3 separate regions of the Homo sapiens genome follow, and all the other regions are linked to region 3. Evidence: fine-mapped expression QTL. Tissue or cell type: whole blood. Region 3 holds a variant in brackets; each other region holds the start of a gene. All regions are shown on one strand. Distances are between the middles of the regions.

Region 1 (8,097 bases), 25 kb before region 3:
GCCCCTAATCCCGCTTGAAGCAGCCCTGGGAAACATCGCCCATTCTCTCTCCATACCACCCTCCAAAAATTTTCGCCACCCCAACACTTCAACACTATTTTGTTTTATTTTTCTTATTAATATAAGAAGGCAGGAATGTCAGGCCTCTGAGCCCAAGCCAAGCTATCCCATCCCCTGTGACTTGCACATATACGCCCAGATGGCCTGAAGTAACTGAAGAATCACAAAAGAAGTGAATATGCCCTGCCCCACCTTAACTGATGACATTCCACCACAAAAGCAGTGAAAATGGCCGGTCCTTGCCTTAAGTGATGACATTACCTTGTGAAAGTCCTTTTCCTAGCTCATCCTGGCTCAAAAATCACCCCCACTGAGCACCTTGCGACCCCCACTCCTGCCCGCCAGAGAACAAACCCCCTTTGACTGTAATTTTCCTCTACCTACCCAAATCCTATAAAACGGCCCCACCCTTATCTCCCTTCGCTGACTCTCTTTTCGGACTCAGCCCGCCTGCACCCAGGTGAAATAAACAGCCATGTTGCTCACACAAAGCCTGTTTGGTGGTCTCTTCACACGGACACGCATAAAAGCAAGTAGCCACCATAGTGGACAGTACAGGCCTAGTGTCCAGCATGATGCCTGACAAATGAAAGATGCTTAATAAACTCTTCTTAAGTGTATGAAAGGATGGAGTAGAATAATTTTTACTCTGCTTTGCACTGTCCAGACTACACATCTGAAATATTATGTTCTGTTCCAGGCACCAAATTTTAAGAGGGTTAGTATCAACCTAGACTATAGAAGGAAGTAGGATGATAACAGTCCCAAAACATCAGCCATAGTTGGCAGAACTTGGAATGTTTTGTATGAAAAATAATAGCCTTTGCATGAAATCAAACTAAATGCCCATCAATGACAGATTGGATAAAGAAAATGTGGTACATATACACATGGAATACTATGCAGCCATAAAAAAACAGATAGTGTCTTTTGCAGGAACATGGATGGAGCTAGAAGCTATTATCCTTAGCAAACTAATGCAGGGAAAAAACCAAATACGACATGTTCTGACTTATAAGTGGGAGCTAAATGATGAGAACTCATGAACACAAAGAAGAGAACAACAGACACAGGGGTCTACTTGAGAGTGGGAGGAGGGAGAGGAGCAGAAAAACAAGTATTGGCTACTAGGCTTAATACCTGGGTGATGAAATAATCTGTACAACAAACCCCCATGGCACGAGTTTACCTACGTAACAAAGCTTCACATGTACCCCCAAACCTAAAATAAAAGTTAAAAAAAAGGAAAATAATCATATTTGGATTCATTTTAGGTTTTGTTTTGTTTTGTTTTGTTTTTGTATGCCTTTGGTCTGGATCAAAGTTTTTTTTTTTAATTAAAGGGTTGGATTAGGCAATGTTTTAGGCCCACGTAAGATAGAAAAGTCTATGATACGATAGTTCTTCCTGTAGAAGAGGAAGTAGACTCTCATAGAGCAGAAATTTGATGACCTTGGAGGATACTAGATACATCCACACATGGGGAAGAACTTTCTGAGAACAGTGCAGGAACGGAATGAGGGAGCCAGTGAGCTTCTTCCCTGGAAATACACAAGAAGAGCCTCTCAAAGTTCAAATCATGAATGAATGCAGTCTTCTTTCCAGCCACAAACATTTCCCAGAATTGGTATTTTAGGGCAGCACATGGATTTCCAGAGCTTCCAATCATTAATAATAGTTACTAATGCAAAAGTTACACCTCATGCTTGTGTCTTTCAGAATTGTGTCTGAGTGCGGTCAGTTCATCTTAAGTGACAGGGTTTCGCCCACCAGCCAAATGATTTTGGATTATTGAAGGAGTTGGTCATGAAGAATATGTTTTCACAAGGAAAGTATGCATATACATTCCAAATAACATGGTTGTGGGATAGTCACCATGACCAGAATTTCAGCTTTCTGGGACCCAGTGCTTCCACCTCCAACTGTGCTATGGAGAGAGAGCCACTGCCTTTCCAGGTACCATGTATGTTATAATTGACAGTGTCAGGCCTCTGAGCCCAAGCCAAGCCATCACATCCCCTGTGACTTGCACATATATGCCCAGATGGCCTGAAGTAACTGAAGAATCACAAAAGAAGTGAAAATGCCCTGCCCCGCCTTAACTGATGACATTCCACCACAAAAGAAGTGAAAATGGCTGGTCCTTGCCTTAAGTGATGACATTACCTTGTGAAAGTCCCTTTTCCTGGCTCATCCTGGCTCAAAAAGCTCCCCCACTGAGCACCTTGTGACCCCCACTCCTGCCCGCCAGAGAACAAGTCCCCTTTGACTGTAATTTTCCTTTATCTACCCAAATCCTATAAAACGGCCCCACCCTTATCTCCCTTCGCTGACTCTTTTCGGACTCAGCCTGCCTGCACCCAGGTGATTAAAAAGCTTTATTGCTCACACAAAGCCTGTTTGGTGGTCTCTTCACACGGACGCGCATGAAAGATAGTACACTTGTATATCATTTTGTATTCTGATACCTTAACTTCTTTACCTTTCACCTAGTTCCTTGTGGCTAAAAATTACTTAAAAATGTAATTTGTAATGACTCCAACATATTGTATAGATAATCATGCTTATTTAACCATTGCCTTTTTGTTGTGTGATTAAGTTATTCACAATTTGCTCTGCTATAAATAATACTGCAATAAACATATTTGTGTGCATTTTAAAATTATTTCCTTAAGGTATATTACACAAATCACAATTTCTACATTGAATTATATTTCGAAGTCTCTTGATGCATTTTGTCAAATTGCTTCCAGAAAGTGTGTAACAATATATATACTCTTGGCACTAGTAGGTGATGGTGCCCATTTCAGCAAGCATCCATCAATATGGAGAAGATCTAAAAGAAAGAAAAAATTACTTGGCCAATTAGATGGGCAAAAGGGTTGCCATTATTGTTGTAATTAACATTTATTTCATTACTGATTTTTTTTAACTACAAGTATTAGTCATTCATATTTCCCTTCCTGTGATTTATCTCTTTGTGCCCTTTACCCAATTTATTCTGCTGTACAGATCTGCTTTTTTCTTATTAAGTCATACAAAGGGCTCATATTTCTTCTCCCAGAAGAGCTAACTCATCCTGCGTGGTTCAGTGTAATCATCACCATTTTCTGGAAAGAGCTGCACTTCAAAAATATACTTCAACTTATACCACATCCATGTGGAAGACCCCTTATTCCCACCACTCTCACTTGAAGTACTTGTCAAAGTTAACACTCATCCTCTGTCAATCCAGGCGTTTCCAGAAGAATCGGTAAGGCTTTCTAGCTCTACCCTCTAACACAGACAATCTCATTCACCCAGAAAAAAAGACACCAAATCAATCAACTGACTCATCTAGTAGCTTGATTTAGTGTGGATTTTCAATGAAAACTTCAAATAAATATATATATTTCCACACATACATACTTAATGCACACACACATATGTATATAATCAGCCCTCTGTATCCATGGGTTCCACATTTGTGTATTCAACCAATCACGGATCAAAAATATCTGGGAAAAAGCTCCACAAAGTTGCAAAAACCAAGCCTTGAATTTGCCACGCAGCAAGTGCTATGTTGACTCCACATGAATGAAGCGCTCTGTATGCGTTGTATTAGGTATTACAAGTAATCTAGGTACTTGTATTTAAAGGGTACTGGAGGATATTTGTAGGTTATCAGCAAATACTACATCATTTTATATAAGGAACTTGAGCATCTATGAATTTTGGTATCTGCAAGGGTCCTGGAACAAATCCCTCACAGATACTGAGGGAGGACTTTGTATATATAAAAATGTATGTGTGTGTGCGTATATATATATATATATATATGTGTATATATATATATATACACATATATATGTAAAATTATATTTTTGCTATTTCTTACAAGTCAATATAAATAAACACAAGCTATTAAGTGTAAGCTCTTTGGAGTAGTCATATGCACATAGTTGAGAATTTGTGAAAGTATAGGAGGGTAACATGGGCACAGATGTTGACTAAAGAGGTATAAAGGGCCAAGTTTGGGTGAGTGCTACACGCAAACTTATCATTGTGTGGATGGGAGACAGAAAGGGAAAATTAGAAAAAGCAAGAAGAAAATGGAGATATGTGGCCATATTTTCTCCCACTCTGGCCCCATACTACCTCTAAATTGCTGTGTACCTTCCTCTCCTCCCTCCTAGATCCAAGAGCACTGCTGGAAGTTACTACTTCCACCTGCCTGGACCCCTCCTTGTTCCACCTCCCTTTTCCTGGAAAAGCGACACCTACCTGAAAATCTCTTCTAAGTAAAAACTTCTATTGTATTTCGATAAGTTCTTGCCCGGATAAGCACAAGAAGACCAGTGGTACCTGCTAATTTAGTGAAGTCCTTGATATGTCCAGTGATAGCTTAGGCGTCACCACTCCTGAAACAGAGATACCATCAGATCACAGACATTAGTAAAGTAGTAAACAATGTAAGTATATAACTTCCTGTTTTAAACAGACTAGCTTCTCAGTTTTGCAAGTTTTCAGAAAGATACTTTCGTGCAGTTCTTCTTTTTCATGATTGACACCACATACTAACCAGTCACCTGAGAAATCCTTGCAATTAGTGCTGCTTTAGGGGCTCTCCACCCATTGGCATTGCTCATTTTTAGTGGTGGGGGGTTGTTATAATTTTTTTTTTTTTTTTAAGACAGGATTTCATTCTGTCACCCAGGCTGGAGTACAGTGGCATGATCTCAGTTCACTGCAACCTCCACCTCCTGGGTTCAAGGGATTTTCCTGCCTCAGCCTCTGGAATAGTTGGTATTAGAGGCACATGCCACCATGCCTGGCTAATTTTTGTATTTTTAGTAGAGACAGGGTTTCACCATGTTGGCCAGGCTGGTCTCAAACTTCTGACCTCAAGTGATCTGCGAGTCTCGGCCTCCTAAAGACCTGGGATTTATAATTCTTGAATAAGCATTGATTTGACTCATCGGGAGACAGGATGAAGAATGAAATAAGAATTTCCCGGCAAAGGAATAAACTAATTATTCTGCAGGGTCCAGTAGACACTTGGATGGGGCAAAATGTGGCTGCAAAGGTTTAGACAAGTCTAAAAGACTTGAGTTTGAGTTTCAGTTGTGGCATACACAGCTACATAAGCTGGGGGTAGTAATTTAAACTTGCTGGACCTCAGCTTTTTCATCTCTAAACTGGAAATAATGATATTTAAGTCATAGCATTGCCGTGGAACCAACTAAGATAAATATGTGAAAAGTCTCTGCAGAATATACAGGGCTAAGGAAATGTAAAGTGTGGGTAGAATGCCACTGTGACATAAGCGTCATAGGGCAGAGCCATGTCTCAGGGCAAAGCGTCACAGGGCAGAGCCATGTGCCTGCTGTATGTGCTGATGTGTCCCTTGGGACCTAGCATGGCACTGGGCACAGAGCAGGTATTCACCCAATATTTGTGGGAAGAACTCTGACTAAGCATGAAGTGATCTTTGATACACTGACTAACTCGACAAATGAGTGTAATGCACCAAAGTGTTTATCAAACGTTTGATATGTGTGTAGGACTGTGCTGTATGCTTCATGATAAAGAAAACATAGGAACAAAAGACAAAGAAAGAGGAAGGAGGATAAGAGAGACAGAGAGAGAGAGAGAGCGCACACACATGTGCATTAGAGAGAGAGAGAAAGAATAGGGAGAGAATTTGAGAGAAAGAGAAGAAAGGGAGGAAGGGGCTCAGTTTCCACCTTAAAGAGTCTATAACCTTGTTGGTGATCAGAGACAACAGAGACCTGATAAAATATCAAGAATGCTCAAATATAGTTAAAGCATAACCAAAGAAACATTTCACTATTTAATCTACAGCATATTCAATATAGCATATTCAAATTGGCTAAAACAAAATTTTCGACTGATAGTAAGATCTCAGACTTTGCTGCTGGACACCTGAATGCAAAACCTACCTTTACCGCTTAATAGGGATATCACCGTGGGCAAGCTACATAACCTCTGTGTGCCTCAGCGTGCTCTACTGCAAAATGATGTAGCAATGCCTAGCTTGTAGGATCTGTGTGAGGAGCAAATAAATTAGGACTACGTGGAGGCCAGTGTGTGGCATGTGGACAGCGTCATGAAAATACTTATCATAGTTGTCATGACAGACCCTCTCAGTGAGAAAGAGGCAGCCACTCAGGGTGGTCTGAAATATAGTATAATATATTGTGCTCTGATTCAGCATGTGGGATGTCAAATGCAAGTTCTACAGGGTTTAGAAAACAGGACCATGTGGGCTGAAGGGACTGGGAACGGCTTCATGGAAGAGAAAGGGCCCGAGGGATGAACAGAATTTGGCCATGTGGAAGGGGTAGGGAGAGTTTCCAGGAAAAAGGAAGTAGAGCTACCAAGACCAAGAGGTGAGGTGAGCTTGGTCCCTGTGCAGGGGTAGGCAGGAATGAAATTAGGGAACAGATATGCTTGCATCCTAATGCCAGGAACCAAGAGCCAGGGAGATTAATATATATACACACATACACATTTTAAAATGTGTAACACATTATATACATCTGTTAGGGTGACACACATTCAGAAGCTCCAGCCCTGCAGAGCATTCAGAGCCACCTGCAGGTCTCTGGCAGAGGGTGGAATTTTGCAGGCCCATTGTGGTGCATCTGGCTTCCACTCCTTTCACTTTATCTGGGGAGTTTTATCCCTAGATCACATGACATGCCAACAGGCGGTCAATGACATCTGAAGACAGGAAAGGCATGGGCCTGGCAGAGGTAGTGGGCATGGAGCAAAGAGTGGAGGGAGATAAGATTGACTGCTGGTTTTGGCTAGATTATAAAGAGTTGACGAGTTCACAGTAGATTCCATGGAAATGTGGGAGCTATTGAAGGATTTTGAGTTATAGTACTGGTACTACCTTATTTGAGATCAGTGTTTGAGGGTTTTCAGAGTATTCCACATAAATTTTCTGGGTGGAAATCCCACAATGACCTTTTAACTTAATAGGGAGATTGTCATCCCAGAGCTGCCTCCATGGGGTGCCATTCACAGGGTAATCAATGCAAACTGCTCCACCTGGGACTACGCAGTAGACCAGAATGAGGAGCAATGCTGGTAATCACCTAACCTGTGGATAAGGGAATTGAGATCAAGTGACCTGTCCAAGCTCACACATGACTAAATGGTGGAGTGGAAATTCCAGCTCCAGTCTCCTTAATTAGCACTCTGTGTTCTCACCAGTGGTGAAATAGAAGGCACCTGGGATTTAGCACCACACAGACCGGGTTCACCTCGCCCATTTATGGCTCATATAGATGAGTCATGTAGCCTTCCTGAGCCCTAATTTCACCATCTACAGTGGAAATTTTGGCTAAGATGAAGCACATGGTAGGAGCTTGATAAATAATCACAATTACCAAATGACATCTCTGCAGAGTTAAAACTATAACAAAGCATTCTTCATCTGAAATCAACAAATTATAGTATTTCCTAGAAGGTTACAAAGATTTAAAAAGCATTTGGAGATTTCTGTAAAGAAGCTACATGCATAAGATTTTTAATAGCTAATTCGCAAGAGATTGTAAAAATTCAGTCACTTCCATTTCTACACCTTGGAGAAAAACAAAGAGGACGGGACAGCATTTTTTTCTGGCATTTTGCAATAAGGCAGATTCTTGTAATAATCTCTACGATTTCCCTCATTAGTTTTTCAGTTAACAACATATTGAAGTGTCATTTGCTTGCACCCATTTTAAGGGTACAGGTCAACAAATTCAACAATTGCATACCTCTCTGAATCACCATCATAATCAAATACAGGACATTTTCACACCTCAAAAAGTACCTTATGCCCCATTTCAATCAATGACTCCCTTATCCCCTGTCCCAGGCAACCGCTGATCTGCGTTATGTTGCTCTAGCTTAGTTTTGCTTGTTCTAGAATATCATATATAAATGGCATCATGCCATATCTACTCCTGTGTCTAGCTTTTTTCTCAGCATAATGAGTTTGAGATTCATTTGTGTTATTCCATGTATCAGTGATTGTAGGGT
Region 2 (8,097 bases), 140 kb before region 3:
GATGGGGCTAAGGACCAGTATCATCTCCTGGCTGAATGCGTGAGCCCTTTGCTCACCTTTGTCTTTGTCCAGGCTCAGCCATGCTCATGTCTCCCTCCTTCTCCTCTCAGCCCTGACCCCACTATCCCTCACTCCCATTCATCTGTGCCTGTCACATTCTCTTCTTCACCTCCAGCTGGCCCTTGATTTCAAGACATTGACAGAATCAGAGATTGAGTGAAGAAATTATGAAGACTAGAAAAAGAGGATTAGCACAAGGTAATGAGGCATTTTTCAGGAGCTGAGATGAGCTTTCTGGAGAGTCAAAGTCTCTACCCACAGTTTTTCTGGATTATTCCCTGAGCACATGTTGGATATGCATTGGGTGACATAGTCTGTATTAGTACACACAGCCCTGAGGTTCCTGGGCACCTGCTTTACAGGTTTCTATTGTTCAACAAACCCTTGAAGTTTGTTGTTATATACAGATTGTTATCTCCCTTTATAAACAACAATCAAACTGCTCCTCGTTTTATAAACCAGCCGAGACTTCCTGCTCCCCAGTGGAAGGCGTGTTTGTTGAAGTCACTCCATCCACTGTCTCCCTGTAGAAAACTGGACATTGTTTGCAGAAGCGCTTGGTGATGTGCTTTCGGAAGAACACCGAGAGATACCTTCTGAACTTCTCCCCAACGAAGGCATAGATGATGGGATTGATGCAGCAGTGAGTCATCCCAAGAGTCTCTGTCACCTGCGTGGCTTGGTCCAGTTGACTGGTGCTTTCACAGTTACTCAGGCCGAAGAATTCCTGGAAGGTGTTCAGGAGAATGACAATATTATAGGGAGTCCAGAAGAGAAAGTAAACAATCATGATGGTGAAGATGACTCTCACTGCCCTATGCCTCTTCTTCTCGTTTCGACACCGAAGCAGGGTTTTCAGGATTCCCGAGTAGCAGATGACCATGATGAGCAGCGGCAGGACCAGCCCCAAAATGTTCCTCATTATTGTGTGGAAATTATTCCATCCTCGTGGAAAATAAGGGCCACAGACATAAACAGAATCTTCTTTCTGGCATTTAGTAAAGATGATTCCTGGGACAGAAGCAAACACAGCCACCAACCAGGTGATCACACTTGTCACCACCCCAAAGGTGACCGTCCTGGCTTTTAAAGCAAACACAGCATGGACAATAGCCAGGTATCTATCGATTGTCAGGAGGATGATGAAGAAGATTCCGCCAAAATAACCGATGTGATACAGCCCTGTGAATAATTTGCACATTGCATTCCCAAAGACCCACTCATTTGCAGCAGAGTGAGCCCACAATGGGAGAGTAATAAGAAAAAGCAGATCAGAGATGGCCAGGTTGAGCAGGTAAATGTCAGTCAAGCACTTCAGCTTTTTGCAGTTTATTAAGATGAGGACGACCAGCATGTTGCCCACAAAACCAAAGATGAACACCAGCGAGTAGAGCGGAGGCAGGAGTTGGGCCCCAATTTGCTTCACGTCAAATTTATGACAGGGAGCACCGTAATCATAATCAAAAAAGGTGGTGACTTCTTCACCGCTCTCGTTGGTATTTCTGATAAACCGAGAACGAGATGTGGACAGCATGTTGTGGATGTACTGGGGAAATGCGTCCTTGTTCAATCCACTTTCTCTGTTCTGTAAACAAAGAACAAAATGATGACCACACAACACAAACACCGCAATCCATGATCTTCCAAATAGTCTGGCACCACATAAGCAACTTCCCAGTCTTTGCCCTCTCCCTTGCAGCCATCTCCCTGAAAGCATGTGTGCCAGTTCCTGATTTGCCTTTCATTCCTAGTGGCAGACATCAATGATTTACCCAACAGCCATTTTCCGACACCCTTTATCTTCCCCAGCAAACCAGATTCTCATTTTCAGGCTAAAAGCGCTGGGCGTTTGTTTTCTCTGGCTCCTTTGCAGGTGGTGCATAGGTCTGTGACTCATTGCTGGACCATAATATGAAAAGGGAGTCTGCTGGGGGCTTCTGAGAAAGCTCTTCTTCCCTGATAAGACAGACACAAGAGAACCCTCCACCTGCCCCTCCTGCTCTGGCAGCATGCCTAGTGAGGGCATGGTGCCATGAATGGAAGACCTAGAGAACCATGAGAAGCCAGGCAGAATCCTATTATCACTGAGTCCTAAACCCACCCTTGAACTATTCACCTTCTGCCTTCTTTTTTTTTTTTTTTTGGAGACGGAGTCTCGCTGTGTCTCCAGGCTATAGTGCAGTGGCCATGATCTCAGCTCACTGCAACCTCCACCTCCTGGGTTCAAGTGATTCTCCTGCCTCAGCCTCCTGAGTAGATGGGACTATAGGCGTGCACCACCATGCCCCGCTAATTTTTGTATTTTTAGTAGAGATGGGGATTCACCATGTTGGCCAGGATGGTCTCGGTCTCTTGACCTCCTGATGCACCCGCCTTGGCCTCTCAAATTGCTGGGAGAAAAACAAGCCCCTGTTTTAAAGCCATTATGAACTGCATTTTCTGTTCTCTGAAGTCAAAAACGTTCTAACTGATGATTCTCTCAGCTTTCTGCCTCCATCATCCTGCCAAAACTTCTCTTGTTAAGATTGCAGTGACAACCCAATTTTTCAAATGCCCTGGTTTTATTCCAATTCCACCCTCTTCAAGTATTTGATCCTTCTGCTAACTTCCTCCATTTACAATTCTTTTTGGCTTCCAGATGGGAGGGGCTGTGCTACCGCTTTTTATTCATGTTCTTTGCTGGCATCTCCTCCCCGTGCCCACACCTTAAGATTCCCCAGGCACCACACTTAGCTCTCACCTCTTTAATTTTTTGCCTCTTTATCCTTGCTACAAAGTTCTTCCTGAATTGTATTGTCTAAACTCATGGTTCCTACTCCCTTCTATGCTACTGTTTTCTAAAGCTCTGTCTTCAAGCTCCAGCTTTCCCCTAAGCCTTAGAGTTGAATTTCCCATTGCCTGATGCATATCTCCCCATGCATGTATTCACTGCATCAACACTTATTGAACACCTACTATGAACCATACTCAGTTTTAGGCACTGAAGTGAGCAAAGTGGGTATCATGCAGGGACCTCAAATTCAACCCACCCCAAATGGGGCACTGCTGAAAACTCCTTCCGATTGTGGATTCCTCCATTGCCTAAGAAGCAAAATTGGGCATTGCCCTGGGTTGCTTCTCCTTCTGAAAATTAGGAGCCAGTTTTTGGAGCCAAACAAACCTGGATTTGAATCCTTATAGGCAGTGTAATCTGGGGCCAATTACTCCTTCAAGTGCCGATTTCTTTATGCATAAAATATTAACTATGCTGAGTTGCTGTGAAGATCAATGGAGTAAGGACTTAGGACAGCATCTGACACAGAGAAATGCCCTGTATTATTATCATGTCATTTGAGTTCCACCTCATAGATGCCTCTCAGATTCATCCCCTCTGCACTGCTTTCAACTGTCACTTTCTTGCTTCACACACTCCTCACTCCTGGCTTTGTTGTAGTCTTTCCTTTGCTCATGGCTCATCTCAAGCCATGTTCCCTCTCAACCTATCTTCTCTTAAGTTGAAATTGAATAGTCACTCTTAGCTTAAAACCTCCAGTAGCCCTATGACTTATATGTGGTGGGCTTCAAAGATAATGTCCAGACTGCCCAGCACAACATCTTTTCTGAGTTTGCCTCTTTTCAGCCTCACCTCCAGTCCCTTCTCCAATCCCAAATCCTGTGCTTCAGTCACAGCCATCTTCTCTTCATTTTCCCTAAACTCACCATTTCCTTCATGCTTCAGTGGTTTTGCAGGTCCTTGCCCCTCTGCCCAAAATGATTGGTGAGCTTCTATTCACCCTTCAATACCTCCTGCTCAAATCCCCCTTCTCTGTGAAGCCTAATCTGTATCCTCTGTCATATTACTCTTATCACATAACACTGCATGCATCTAGATAAGCACTTATTATGTTATCTGCTACACACAGCATGTTCCTCAAGATCAAGGACTGGATTATGCTTCTATTTTCAGCTCTTATGATAGTACCTGGCTAAAGGAGGCACCAATAAATGTTCACTGAATGAGTACATAAAACTCTTTATAATAAGAACTATAAGCCCTAACATCATCAGGACTTGATTCTCAAGAATTTTTTTTCTGGCAGTGACTGTGAATTTCTTTTCCACCCACCTGTATACTTTATCCTTCCATTTCTCTTGCAATTGACACTTTTCACAAGTCTTGTATTTCATATCACTGAGCCAGATTCTTGAAATCTGGAGAAGCTAAATAAGACCTCTGATCAAAGTTGGAAAAAAATGCATCTGCCTAAAGAATCACAACTGTGGTCATTAATTGAGTGCTCCTGAAGCTCAGATGCTATGTTAAATGCTGTGCACACATTACTTAATTTCATTTTTACAACTGGCTAGCATGTAGCTTCTACTACAGTGAACAATGAGCAAGATGCCTGAAATGTGCTGTCCTAGGTGTCATTTCAAGTGTCAGAACATGTCACCCAGAACTGATAGAAATCTATCTTTCAGAAAATAAATTCCTTACTTCTGCCTCTGTGGATCTCCTGAGTTGAGGCAAGGGACACATTTTGGTTCAGAGCTTGGATGGTCCTATATTTAGACTAACAGTTCCAGCTCTTTAACGTCCTTGGGTGCTCAGAGGGGCAGAGTGAGCCCCTGGGTGTGTGGACTGGTGACTGAGCAGAGTGGCTGTCCTGGCCTCGCTTGCTGCCCACTCTCCCCCATCACCTGCTGCACGCTGCTCTTCCTCAGGGTTTCTCTAACATCTCCTGGTGCACATGCCATCCCCACCCCTGCCTCTCATCTTGATCATTCCCCCCAAGTGTGCAGGCTTTGCAGTTCCCCAGGGTGTACCCAGACCCGGCATTTCCAGCTTTGAGGTGCGTTGAGCCTATGAATCAGAAAGTAATGGAAAAAATGCCTACAACTCACCAGCTTGTGGCTTGTCTCAGGCAGTCCTGGTATGTCAGGCTTCTCAGCAACTGAACCAAACAGATCTAGAGGTAGAAACTTGGCATGCAGAAGTAGGAAATAAAGTTTCCTGCAGAAAGTGAAGGCGGAGATACAGGGCAACTAATGGTAAAGATTTGAAAAAAAAAATCAGAAAAATATAGTTCTTCTTTTCCAGTCAGGAACATTGTACATTGGGTTGAGGTCTCCAGAATAGGATTAATTTTGAAATCTTGCTTATGCAACCTTGAGTGTGAGTCAGGCAAACCCTGTACATCTGCTCCTGTTTCTAACGACTCTGAGCTTCTTTATCTTGTGGGTCTTTATACCTGGAACATTTCCACTCTCTGCTCTCCTACTAGTGATAATTTGCATGATATGAGCACAACAGAATGTTTCATGTTCCAGAGAATAAAGGGTATTGGTGATAGTGGAGGAAGTATAATGAGGTTTTACTGCGATCATGTGTGCTGGTTTCAGTGGTATCATGGATTCAGAATCTGGTTAGAAATTTCATTTAGATAAGACTTTAAAATTTTTTTTTATTTAATTCACATAATAATTGTATATATTTATGGGACACAATGTGATGTTTTGCTACATGTATACATTGTGCAATGATCAAATCAGGGTAATTACATATCCATCCTCTGAAACATTTATCATTTCTTTTGAAATAATAATGATATTGAAAACCCTCTCTTCTAGCTATTTATATATACAGAATTCATTATTAACTACCGTCACCCTACTTGGAGCAGAGCACCAGCACTTGTTTCTCCTATCTCATGGTAACTTTGTACCCGTTGATCAACTGCTGCCCATTCTCACCTCCTCTCTTTCCTCCCCAGTCTCTGGTAACCACTGCTCTACTGTCTTTTTCTAAGATAGCAACTTTTTTTTTTTTTTTAAATTGGGTTTCATTCTGTCACCCAGACCGGAGTGCACTGGCACAGTCTCAGCTCACTGCTACCTCCACCTTCTGAGTTCAAGCCATCCTCCCACCTCAGCCTCCTGAGTAGCTAGGATTACAGGTGTGTGCCATCATGCCCGGCTAAGCAACTTATTTAAAAAAAAATTCCACATAAGAGTGAGATCACGTGGTATTTGTCTATCTGTGTGTGGCTTATTTCACTTAACATCCTCTAGGTTCATCCACATTATCACAAATTACAGGATTTCAAACTTTTTAATGAAAAGGAAATGCTAAATTATCTCTTGTGTCAGGAACGTCCTTAGCAAGAAGAACCTCAGTTATTTTAAATGCCCCTCCTTGGAAAGACGTTTTGTTAAAAGATAATGTAAATTTTGCAATGGGGACATCAGACTAGGAGCATTCCTAAGATTGTGCAGAGAACATGGTGTCATCTAAGTTGGCCCCTGGCACTTTCTGGAATCCAGCAGACACCGGAGGCAGGATCTCATGCTGTGGACTTGGCAAGTTTCTAAGTTTCCATTTCCCAAATATGAAATATGAATAACAAGACTGGGGGTCTATGAGGGTAAATGGACCTAAAGCAGCTAGAGCAGGGTCTGGCAGGCACTCCACAGGTAACAAACAGAACAGAACAGTCTGAGCCCTGCAGAGTGCCAGAGGTTGAAGGATGCATCCACTGCTAGAGCCAACAACAATCAAATGCTCAGGGCAGTCCAGGTGTCCTTTCCAGATTTCAAGAAGTTGGCTTTTTTGCTGTTGTTGTTGTTGTTGTTGTTGTTGTGTTATGTTGTGTTTTTGCTTTCTTTTGCGACAAGATCTTGCTCTGTTGCCTAGGCTGGAGTGCGGTGGCATGATCATGCTTCACTGCAGTCTCAACCTCAAGCAATCCTCTCATCTCAGCCTCCCAAGTAGCTGAGACTACAGGTGCATGCCACCATGCCTGACTATTTTTTGTAGAGATGGGGTTTTGTCATGTTGCCCGGGCTGGTCTCGAACTCCTGGGCTCAGGCAATCTGCCTGCCTCAGCCTCCTGAAGGGCTGGGATTACAGGTGTGAGCTCCTACACCCAGCCCAGATTTCAGTCAGTTGTAACCATGTGTCCTGTGTAAGACCTGGTATATGTGCTAAGTAAGACCTGAGACTTGAAGGGTCTCAGGTTTTTTCTTGGAAGACAGCTCATTGCCTGTTCAGGAACATAGCAAGTTCCCCAGTTGTCTCTCAATGTGTCTCTGGGCCGGAATTGGAGCATATCTCTGAGATTTCAATAATAAGACAGGTCATCCCTGACCTGGTAACACTGAGCTTGCTGCCACTTCTGGAATCTCCTGACCCTGGCATCTTGCCACCTGTTCCTATGATTCAACCCAGGATGGGGAAGAGCAAGAGCCAGAAATTTTGCTCTGGCTGATTAGGACCGCTCTCCAATTTTGTCTTCACATTGTGATCTTTGTCTCCAGCCCTGTAATTTCATAAACAAGGAGAGGCACAGAGGTAGATAGTTGCAGAGCCAGGATTCAAACCTTTGGCTTATACTGACACAGAGGGCAGGATAACAGAGGGCACCCTCCGCTGAGATTTTGAAGAGACAGTATAGAATGAAAATATTTTTGGAGGGGTGAGCAGGCTTAAAAGAAGCAACAGGGATGGTGAGGTGGTCTGTCATCCCTATGCTTTGTGGGAGACCAGAATTTGACACCCTAAAATGTACCTCTTTTGCATAAGGATTGTTGAGCTGAAGGCAATTAAGAAGCAGATGAAGGAAAGCTCTTTTCCCTCCCTTTATTTGTCTAAAAGCAGGATATAGACTTACAAAGACAAAACGGATCTGCACCCCCCTCCACACCTTCTGCCAGGGTGAACAAAGGTTCACCACTGAAGACAAATTTAAATCCTTGTGGACCTGGAGATGGCACCAGAGGAATCTTCATTAACAAGTATTACTAACCAGCCTTTACCTCCATTTATTCCTTTTGCCTTCCTACAAGTCACTGTCCCTAGAGGCTCAAAGTTCATTTTCTTTGTCTTGTCATATCTCTAAAATGTTACTGAACTTTGTTGAAGATGCTATATGAGCTGGAATTCAAAGTCACCTTTTTAAGAATTATTCATTCCCTGGATAGCTCCTATGTACGTATAAAATATGTACGTTAATAAACTTTTCTCGTGTTAATCTGTCTTTTGTTACAGGGGTCCATTCC
Region 3 (8,110 bases):
AAGGGGCAAAAGAACACAGGATGATCCTTTGGAAGAAGTGAATGTGCATTTCAACAACCGGAAACCTGCCAGGGGTTCTTGGAGGAAAGCAAGCTCAAAAATGAAGGCTTAAGCAAAACAAAATAGCCCACCCCGCAGAATAACCCACAGAGGGAAAAGGAAGACAGGAATAAGACTAAAAGTCTAGAAAAGGGAAGTGCAAATTGGGTTCAAGATGCCTCAACTGCAGGCAGAGCCGTGTGGTTTGAACTGTTTGTGTGACTTGAAACATAGCCCAGCCAAGGTCAGGACCTCTCTTTGTGAAGGATTGGGCTGCGGGGGGCATGTGAGGGGTGCATCTTGCATGTGCAGGAATACCCCTACAACTAGGGAATCAGGCCCCAGCTGCTAGTGGGAAGAGCAGATATTCAAGTAAAAGCTATTTCTGCTGAAACCAAAGATTTATATAAACTCAGATACAGTATTTGTTGCTGTTGTCAGATCCATTTGTCCTTGAAGACTTAAGATGAAAGAAATGCAAACATCTTCCCTGTACATTCATGGCCTATAGGTACTCTGCAATGGTGTGCTGGTAAATGTTAACAACCAGCTTTCTGGAGGAAGAATCAAAACAGGCACAACATGCCTGATATAATAGCATCAATTTCCAGTTTCCTTGGTGTAAATACTCTCCGTGGCCAAGTTCAAGTTGTGAACTTAATATCACTAAGGCGAAGGTGGGTCTAACAGAGTTTAGGTAACCATAATAACAGAGTTTGTTGAGTTTACATTATTTGCTAAATTCTTCATGTGCATCATTTTATTTTATTATTTCAATAGTTTTTGGGGAACACGTGGTGTTTGGTTACATGGATAAGTTCCTTAGGTGTGATTTCTGAGATTTTGGTACCCCCATCACCTAAGCAGTGTACACTGCACCCAGCGTGTAGTCTTTAATCCCTTGTCTCTTTCCCACCCTTCCGTCTAAGTCTCCAGAGTCCATTATGTCATTCTGATGCCTTTATATCCTCACAGCATAGCTTCCACTTATAGGTGAGACCATAGGATGTTTGGTTTTCCACTCCTGAGTTACTTCACTTGGAATAATGGTCTCCAACTCCATCCAGGTTGCTGGGAATGACATTATTTTGTTCCTTTTTGTGGCTGAGTAGAATTCCATGGTATATGTATATCACATTTTCTTTATCCACTCGTTAGTTGACGGACATTTACTTTGGTTCCATATTTTTGCAATTGTGAATTGCGCTGCTGTAAAGATGCATGTGCAGGTGCCTTTTTCATTGTAACGACTTCTTTTCCTCTGGGTAGATACCCAGTAGTGGGATTGCTGAATCAAATGGTAGTTCTACTTTTGGTTCTTTAAGGAATCTCCATACTGTTTTCTATAGTGGTTGTACTAGTTTACATGCCCAGCAGCAGTGTAAAAATATTCTCTTTTCACCACATCCCTGCCAACATCTATTATTATTATCTATTATTTTTTGATTTTTTAATTATGGCCATTCTTGCAGGAGTAAGATGATATTGCATTGTGGTTTTGATTTGCATTTCCCTGATAATTAGTGATGTTGGGCATTTTTTCATATGTTTGTTGTCCACTTGTGTATCTTCTTTTCAGAATTGTCTACTCATGTCCTTAGCCCGCTTTTTGATGGGATTATTTGTTCTTTTCTTGCTGATTTAAGTTCCTTGTAAATTCTGGATATTCACCATTTTGTCAGATGCACAGTTTGCAAAGATTTTCTCCCACTCTGTGGGTTGTCTGTTTACTCTGCTGATTATTACTTTTGCTATGCAGAAGCTTTTTAGTTTAATTCAGTCCCATCTATTTATCTTTGTTTTTGTTGCATTTGCTTTTGGGTTCTTGGACATGAACTCTTTGCTTAGGCCAATGTCTAGGAGAGTTCTTCTGATGTTATCTTCTAGACTTTTCATGGTTTCAGGTCTTAGATTTAAGTCTTTTATCCATCTTGAGATGATTTTTGTCTAAGGTGAGAGATGAGGATTCAGTTTCATTCTTCTACATGTGGTTTGACAATTATCCCAGTACCATTCGTTGGAAAGGGTGTCCTTTCCCCACTTTATGTTTTTGTTTGCTTTGTCAAAGATCAGTTGGTTGTAAGTATTTGGCTTTATTTCTGGGTTCTCTATTCTGTTCCATTGGTCTATCTGCCTGTGCCTATTTTTATACCAGTACCACGCTGTTTTGGTAACTATAGCCTTGTAGTATAGTTTGAAGTTGGGTAATATGAGGCCTCCAGATTTGTTCTTTTTGTTTAGTCTTGCTTTGGCTTTGTGGGCTCTTTTTTGGTTCCATATGAATTATAGGATTTTTTTTCTAGTTCTGTGAAGAATGATGATGACATTTTGATGAGAATTGCATTGAATTTATAGATTGCTTTAGGCAGTATGGTCATTTTCATAACATTGATTCTACCTGTCCGTGAGCATGGGATGTGTTTCTATTTGTTTGTGTCATCTATGATTTCGTTCAGCAGTGTTTGGTAGTTTTCCCTGTAGAGATCTTTCACCTCTTTGATTAGGTATATTCCTAAGTATTTTATAATATTATTTTTTGCAGCTGTTATAAAAGGGGTTGAGGTTTTGATTTGATTCTCAGCTTGGTTGCTGTTGGTGTATAGCAGTGCTACTGATTTTTGTACATTGATTTTGTATCCTGAAACTTTACTGAATTCCTTTATCAGATCTAGGAGCTTTTTGGATGAGTCTTTAGAGTTTTCTAGGTATGTGATCATATCATGGGCAAACAGCGACAGTTTGACTTCTTCATTACTAATTTGGATGGCCTTTGTTTCTTTCTCTTGTCTGACTGCTCTGGCTAGAACTTCCAGTAATATGCTGAATAGAAGTGTGAAAGTGGGCATCCTTGTCTTGTTCCAGTTCTCAGAGAAAATGCTTTCAACTTTCCCCTTTTCAGTATAATGTTAGCTGTGGGGTTGTCATAGACGGCTTTGATTACCTTATGGTATGTCCCTTCTATGCTGATTTTGCTAAGGGTTTTAATCATAAATGGAAACTGGATTTTGTCAAATACTTTTTCTGAATCTATTGAGATGATTATATGATTTTTGTTTTTACTTCTGTTTATGTGGTATATCACATTTATTGACTTACATATGTTAAATCAGCCCTGCCTCCCTGGTATGAAATCCACTTGATTATGGTGCATTACCTTTTTGATATCCTGTTGAATTCGGTTACCTAGTGTTTTGTTGAGGATTTTTGCATCCACATTCATGAGGGATATTGATCAGTAGTTTTCTTTTTTCATTACGTCATTTCCTGGTTTTGGTATGAAGCTAGGGTAATACTAGCTTCATAGAATGATTTAGGGAGGATTCCTTCTTTCTCTATCTTTTGGAATAGTGTCAGTAGGATTGGTGCCAATTCTTCTTTGAATGCCTGATAGAATTCAAGCTGTCAATCCATCTGGTCCTAGACTTTTTTTTTTTGTTGGCAATTTTTAAAATTACCATTTTAATCTTGCTGCTTGTTATTGGTCTGTTCAGAGTTTCTATTTCTTCCTGGTTTAATCTAGGAGGGTGGTACATTTCTAGGAATTTATCCATCTCCTCTAGGTTTTCTAGTTTGTGCACATAAGTTTGCTTATAGTAGCCTTGAATAATCTTTTGCATTTCTGTGGCATCATTTATAGTATCTCCCATTTCATTTCTAATTGAGCTTACTTGGAACTTCTCTCTTCTTTTCTTGGTTAATCTTGCTAATGGTCTATCGATTTTGCTTATCTTTTCAAAGAACCAACTTTTTGTTTCATTTAGCTTTTGTATTTTTTTTTTGTTTGTTTCAGTTTTATTTAGTTCTGCTCTGATCTTTGTATTTCTTTCCTTCTGCTTGGTTCAGGTTTGATTTGTTCTTGTTTCTCTGGTTCCTTGAGGTGTGGCCTTAGGTGTCTATTTGTGCTGTTTCAGACTTTTTGATGTAGGGGTTTAATGCTATGAACTTTCCTCTTAGCACCGCTTTTGCTGTATCCCAGAGGTTTTGATCAGTTGTGTTACTATTGTCATTCAGTTCAAAGAATTGCTAAATTTCCCTCTTGATTTTATAGTTAACCCAAGGATCATTTGGGAGCAGATTATTTAATTTCCATGTATTTGTGTAGTTTTGGCAGTTCCTTTTAACTTTTAATTTCCAATTTTATTCCACTGTGGTCTGACGGAGTACTTGATACAATTTTGATTTTCTTAAATTTATTGAAACTTATTTTGTGGCCTATCATATAGTCTATCTTGGAGAATGTTCCATGAGCTGATGAAAAGAATGTATATTCTGCAGTTTTTGGGTAGAATGTTCTGTAAATATCTGTAAGGTCCATTTGTTCTAGGGTACAGTTTAAGTCTAATGTTTCTTTGTTGACTTTCT[A/G]TCTTGATGACCTGTTTAGTACTGTCAGAAGAGTACTGACTTCCCCTACGACTATTGTGTTGCCATCAATCTCATTTCTCAGGTCTAGTAGTAATTGTCTTATAAATTTGGGAGCTCCAGTGTTAGGTGCATATATATCTAGGATTGTGATATTTTCCTGTTGGACTAATACTTTTATCATTACATAATGTTTCTCTTTGTCTTTTTTAACTGTTGTTGGTTTTAAGTCTGTTTTGACTGATATAAGAATAGCTACTATTGCTTGCTTTTGGTTTCCATTTGCATGGAATGTCTTCCCTCCCCCTCACTTTACCTTAAGTTTATGTGAGTTTGGTGGATTTTTATCTATCTGTCATTCTATTTCTTTTAAGTGAAGCATTTAGGCCATTTACATTCAATGTTAGTATTGAGATGTGAGGTACTGTTCTATTCATCATGCTAGTTGTTGCCTGAATACCTTTTTTTTCATTGTGTTATTGTTTTATAGGTCCTGTGAGATTTTCACTTTAAGTAGGTTCTATTTTGGTATATTTTGAGGTTTTATTTCACAATTTAGGACTTCTTTTTAGCAGTTCTTGTAGTGCTGGCTTGGTAGTGGTGAATTCTCTCAGCATTTGTTTACCTGAAAAATACTTTATCTTCCTTTATTAATGAAGCTTAGTTGGATTGGATCCAACGCTCTAGGGTGATAATTATTTTAAGGAGGCAAAAGATAGGACCCCAACATCTTCTGACTTGCAGGGTTTCTGCTGAGAATTCTGCTGTTAATCTGATAGGTTTTCATTATAGATTACCTATAAAGGAGAAGCTGAGGTTTTCGCCTCACAGCTCTTAAGAGTCTTTCCTTCATCTTGACTTTAGGTAACTTGATGACTAGGTGCCTAGATGATGATCTTTTTGTGATGAATTTTCCAGGTGTTCTTTGAGCTTCTTGTATTTGGATTTCTAGATCACTAGCAAGACTGGAGAAATTTTCCTCAATTATTCCCTCAGATACGTTTTCAGATAAGTTTTAGATTCCCTTTCTTCCTCAGGCACACCAATTATTCTTCCAGAGACACAGGTGCCTTCAAGCTCACCCAATGTGTGCAGTGTGTACATAGTACAAGGTCCTTGCTCATTCACTTGGCACTCCAACCTGGGGGGCGTTTCGTGTCAACACATAAAGTTGCATAGCATTCCAGCGGGACTTAATCAGTCCCTTACATTGCAGTGAATGTGCCTGTAATCTGTATCTTCTGCCACATGTGTAAATATTTGTAAGATAAATTCATAAAAGTGGAATTGCTGGAATAAAAAATGCATACACTTCAAATTCCGATAGCTATTGCCAAACAGTCCTCCATGGAGTGGGACCCAATTTCCCCTCCCATCAGCAATAGGCAGGCATGACTTTTCCTCCACAGCTTCACCAACTCAGTGCTGGAACCAGATCTGAAGTCAGGTGTCTGACTCCCAGATTCTGGCTATTCCCATGAAGTGAAGCTGCAGGTTGGGTCTCAGAAGTAGCCATCTATAGGGGCAGCCTAGTGAGCCTGCTCCCTACAACCCATGACCAACCAAAAAATGTTTACTGAACATCTACAAGCTGAAATGTGCTGGGGTGTGCTGGGTTGCTCTGTGGCACCATTCATTCATCTCCAGCCCTCTTGGTCCTCTGGCAGACTCCAACTCATTTCTCTAGCCCCAGGGTAAACATCGATGCAAAGTGTTTCTGACTCCAGCTAACTTCCATTGTGTATCTCTTGAACCCTATACAGACTTCTATCCCACTAGAACGTGATCCTCTAGACCAGGGTGTCTCACACTGTCGTGTGCAAACAAATCCCTTGGGGATCTGATAAAAATGCAGACTCCCACCCAGTAAACCTGTGGTGGGGCCTGAGAGTCTGCATTTCTGGTAAGCTCTCAGGTTTTGCCATCACTTTGAACAGCAGGGTCCAGCACTGATTCTCAAACTCTAGCATAAATAAGAAGCACCTGGAGGACTTGTTAAAACACAGATTCCTGGGTCTAACCTTCAATGGGGCCTGAGAACCTTCATTTCCACCAAGCTCCCAGGTGACACAGATGCTGCTGGTTCACATACCTCACCTTGCATAACACTACTTCCAGGCCCTACCTAACTCAACTTTTAGGACTCTTAACTACTCCATGCTTGACAGAGAGAACACATGCTTAATAGCTGTGTGATGGATGAGGTGTAAGGGAACAAATACCAGCATGAGCACTCAGACTGGATGTAATAAGTGACAGGAACACACATGTGACTGTCTGGAGCTTAGGTTTGGAGTACAAGGATCATTATCAGCTCTTCATTCCTGCCTGACCCCCTGCCAGCCTCAAACCACAATGAGCCACTGCCCCATTCTTGCGAGCACTTAGATTACAGACCTACCAGGTTCTAGTTGGCAGCTCTTGGCACCAGCCTCTTCAGGTACAATGGCCATGCTCTCAGGCTCTCTGCCAGCAGGAACCACCCCAGAAACTTGTGTGTTTGGGGACAGGAAGGGACATTGGGAGGGGATAATGTGCTCTTGGTTCATTCACAGGCTCTCAAATCCTGCCCCCCAGTGTCTGCTTTCTGCTAAGCACTTCACTGTGCCAGAAGACCTGAGGGAAGGGGCTTCCCTACATCATCCACACTGCCCTGCAGCATCCATTACCCTCTGCTTGCCCAGGGAGGAAAGGTGGAGGCACTATCTACTGGTCTCCCCAGAGGATCTGGCTCACAAGTGGCTGTTTTATCACAGAACATCAGGGCTCCTTATTTCTATAAATTGGCAAAAAGAAAAGGCAGCCCTTTTCTCTGTTAGATGTCCTCATACCTCAGTGTGACCCCAGCAGCCACATCCCTGAGCAGAGGTGGTCTGAACATGTCAGAGCAGAAAGATGGGAGGAACCTGAGTCCCAGATGAAGCTGCTAAATTAAATAACTCGGATAGGAATAATGCAATAGAGCAGGAAAAACTGACAAGATGAGAGAAAATCAATAGAGCAATGTCCTTGAGTGAGTGAGAGAGGTTGGGATCCTGCACAAGCGGAAGGGATGGGTTTAGACAGGAACATGGAGAATCCAGCCATGTAACAGGTGGGAGGCAGAGAACTGTCCAGGAAAAAAGTGACCGGTAGCAGGGGAGGTGAGAGGTGGGGGCTTGTAGAAAGTTTCTTCTGATGGCTTTCATTTTCTCAGCGAAATAGGAAACAAGATCATCAGCTAAGAATGAGGATAACAGGTGGTGTTGGAGGTTTAAGGAAAAGGCAAAAGGTGTGAAATAATGTCTAAAAGAGGGGAATGCAGTTGATGGGCATTAAGGATGCTTTGGATACAGCTATCATCATTTAGAGCCACCCTAGTCACTGTGGTTGTGTGATTTTCTCTGGCCATATTTAACTTCACAGATGCAAGTGGGGGAGCTGGATCTAACTAGGACCAAAATTTTGCCAAGTGGGCATGACAGGATCAGAAAAGAGCAAAGGAATTGAGGGTGTGTTTAAGGGAGAGACTGTAATGATGGCTCATGGATTTTTAAGATGATGGGAAGTGAGGGCATGAGGAGGCTGAAGGTCAGTGGAAAATTAAAATATCAGTGGACTGGAGGTCCCACTGGGGTTAAAGAACTGTTGGAGTTGAGGTGCTAGAGGCAGTGAGTAGTAAATGTAGGAGGTGGTGGTCAGAGGCTGGATGCTGGCAGCAGGAAGTATGAAG

The links. PIP is the estimated chance that this variant, and not a neighbour inherited with it, causes the effect.
Region 1: CCR3 starts here. The variant in region 3 is fine-mapped to the expression of CCR3 in whole blood (INTERVAL, PIP above 0.99).
Region 2: CCR2 starts here. The variant in region 3 is fine-mapped to the expression of CCR2 in whole blood (INTERVAL, PIP above 0.99).

The regions. Positions count from the first base shown.
Region 1 is chr3:46,238,765-46,246,861 of GRCh38, reverse strand. It overlaps CCR3 (C-C motif chemokine receptor 3), which reads right to left and starts at 4,402. Exons shown (of 2, transcript NM_178329.3): 1 at 4,324-4,402. RefSeq lists enhancers at 1,924-2,468, 6,865-7,421.
Region 2 is chr3:46,351,025-46,359,121 of GRCh38, reverse strand. It overlaps CCR2 (C-C motif chemokine receptor 2), which reads right to left and starts at 5,011. Exons shown (of 2, transcript NM_001123396.4): 1 at 4,945-5,011; 2 at 1-1,645. The coding sequence starts at 1,594. The coding sequence ends at 512.
Region 3 is chr3:46,213,703-46,221,812 of GRCh38, reverse strand. It overlaps a transcript of CCR3 not described here. Among named protein-coding and RNA genes, the nearest start is that of CCR1, 9.4 kb to the right of the region's middle. RefSeq lists an enhancer at 1-145. The variant A/G (reference allele first, on the strand shown) is at 4,402.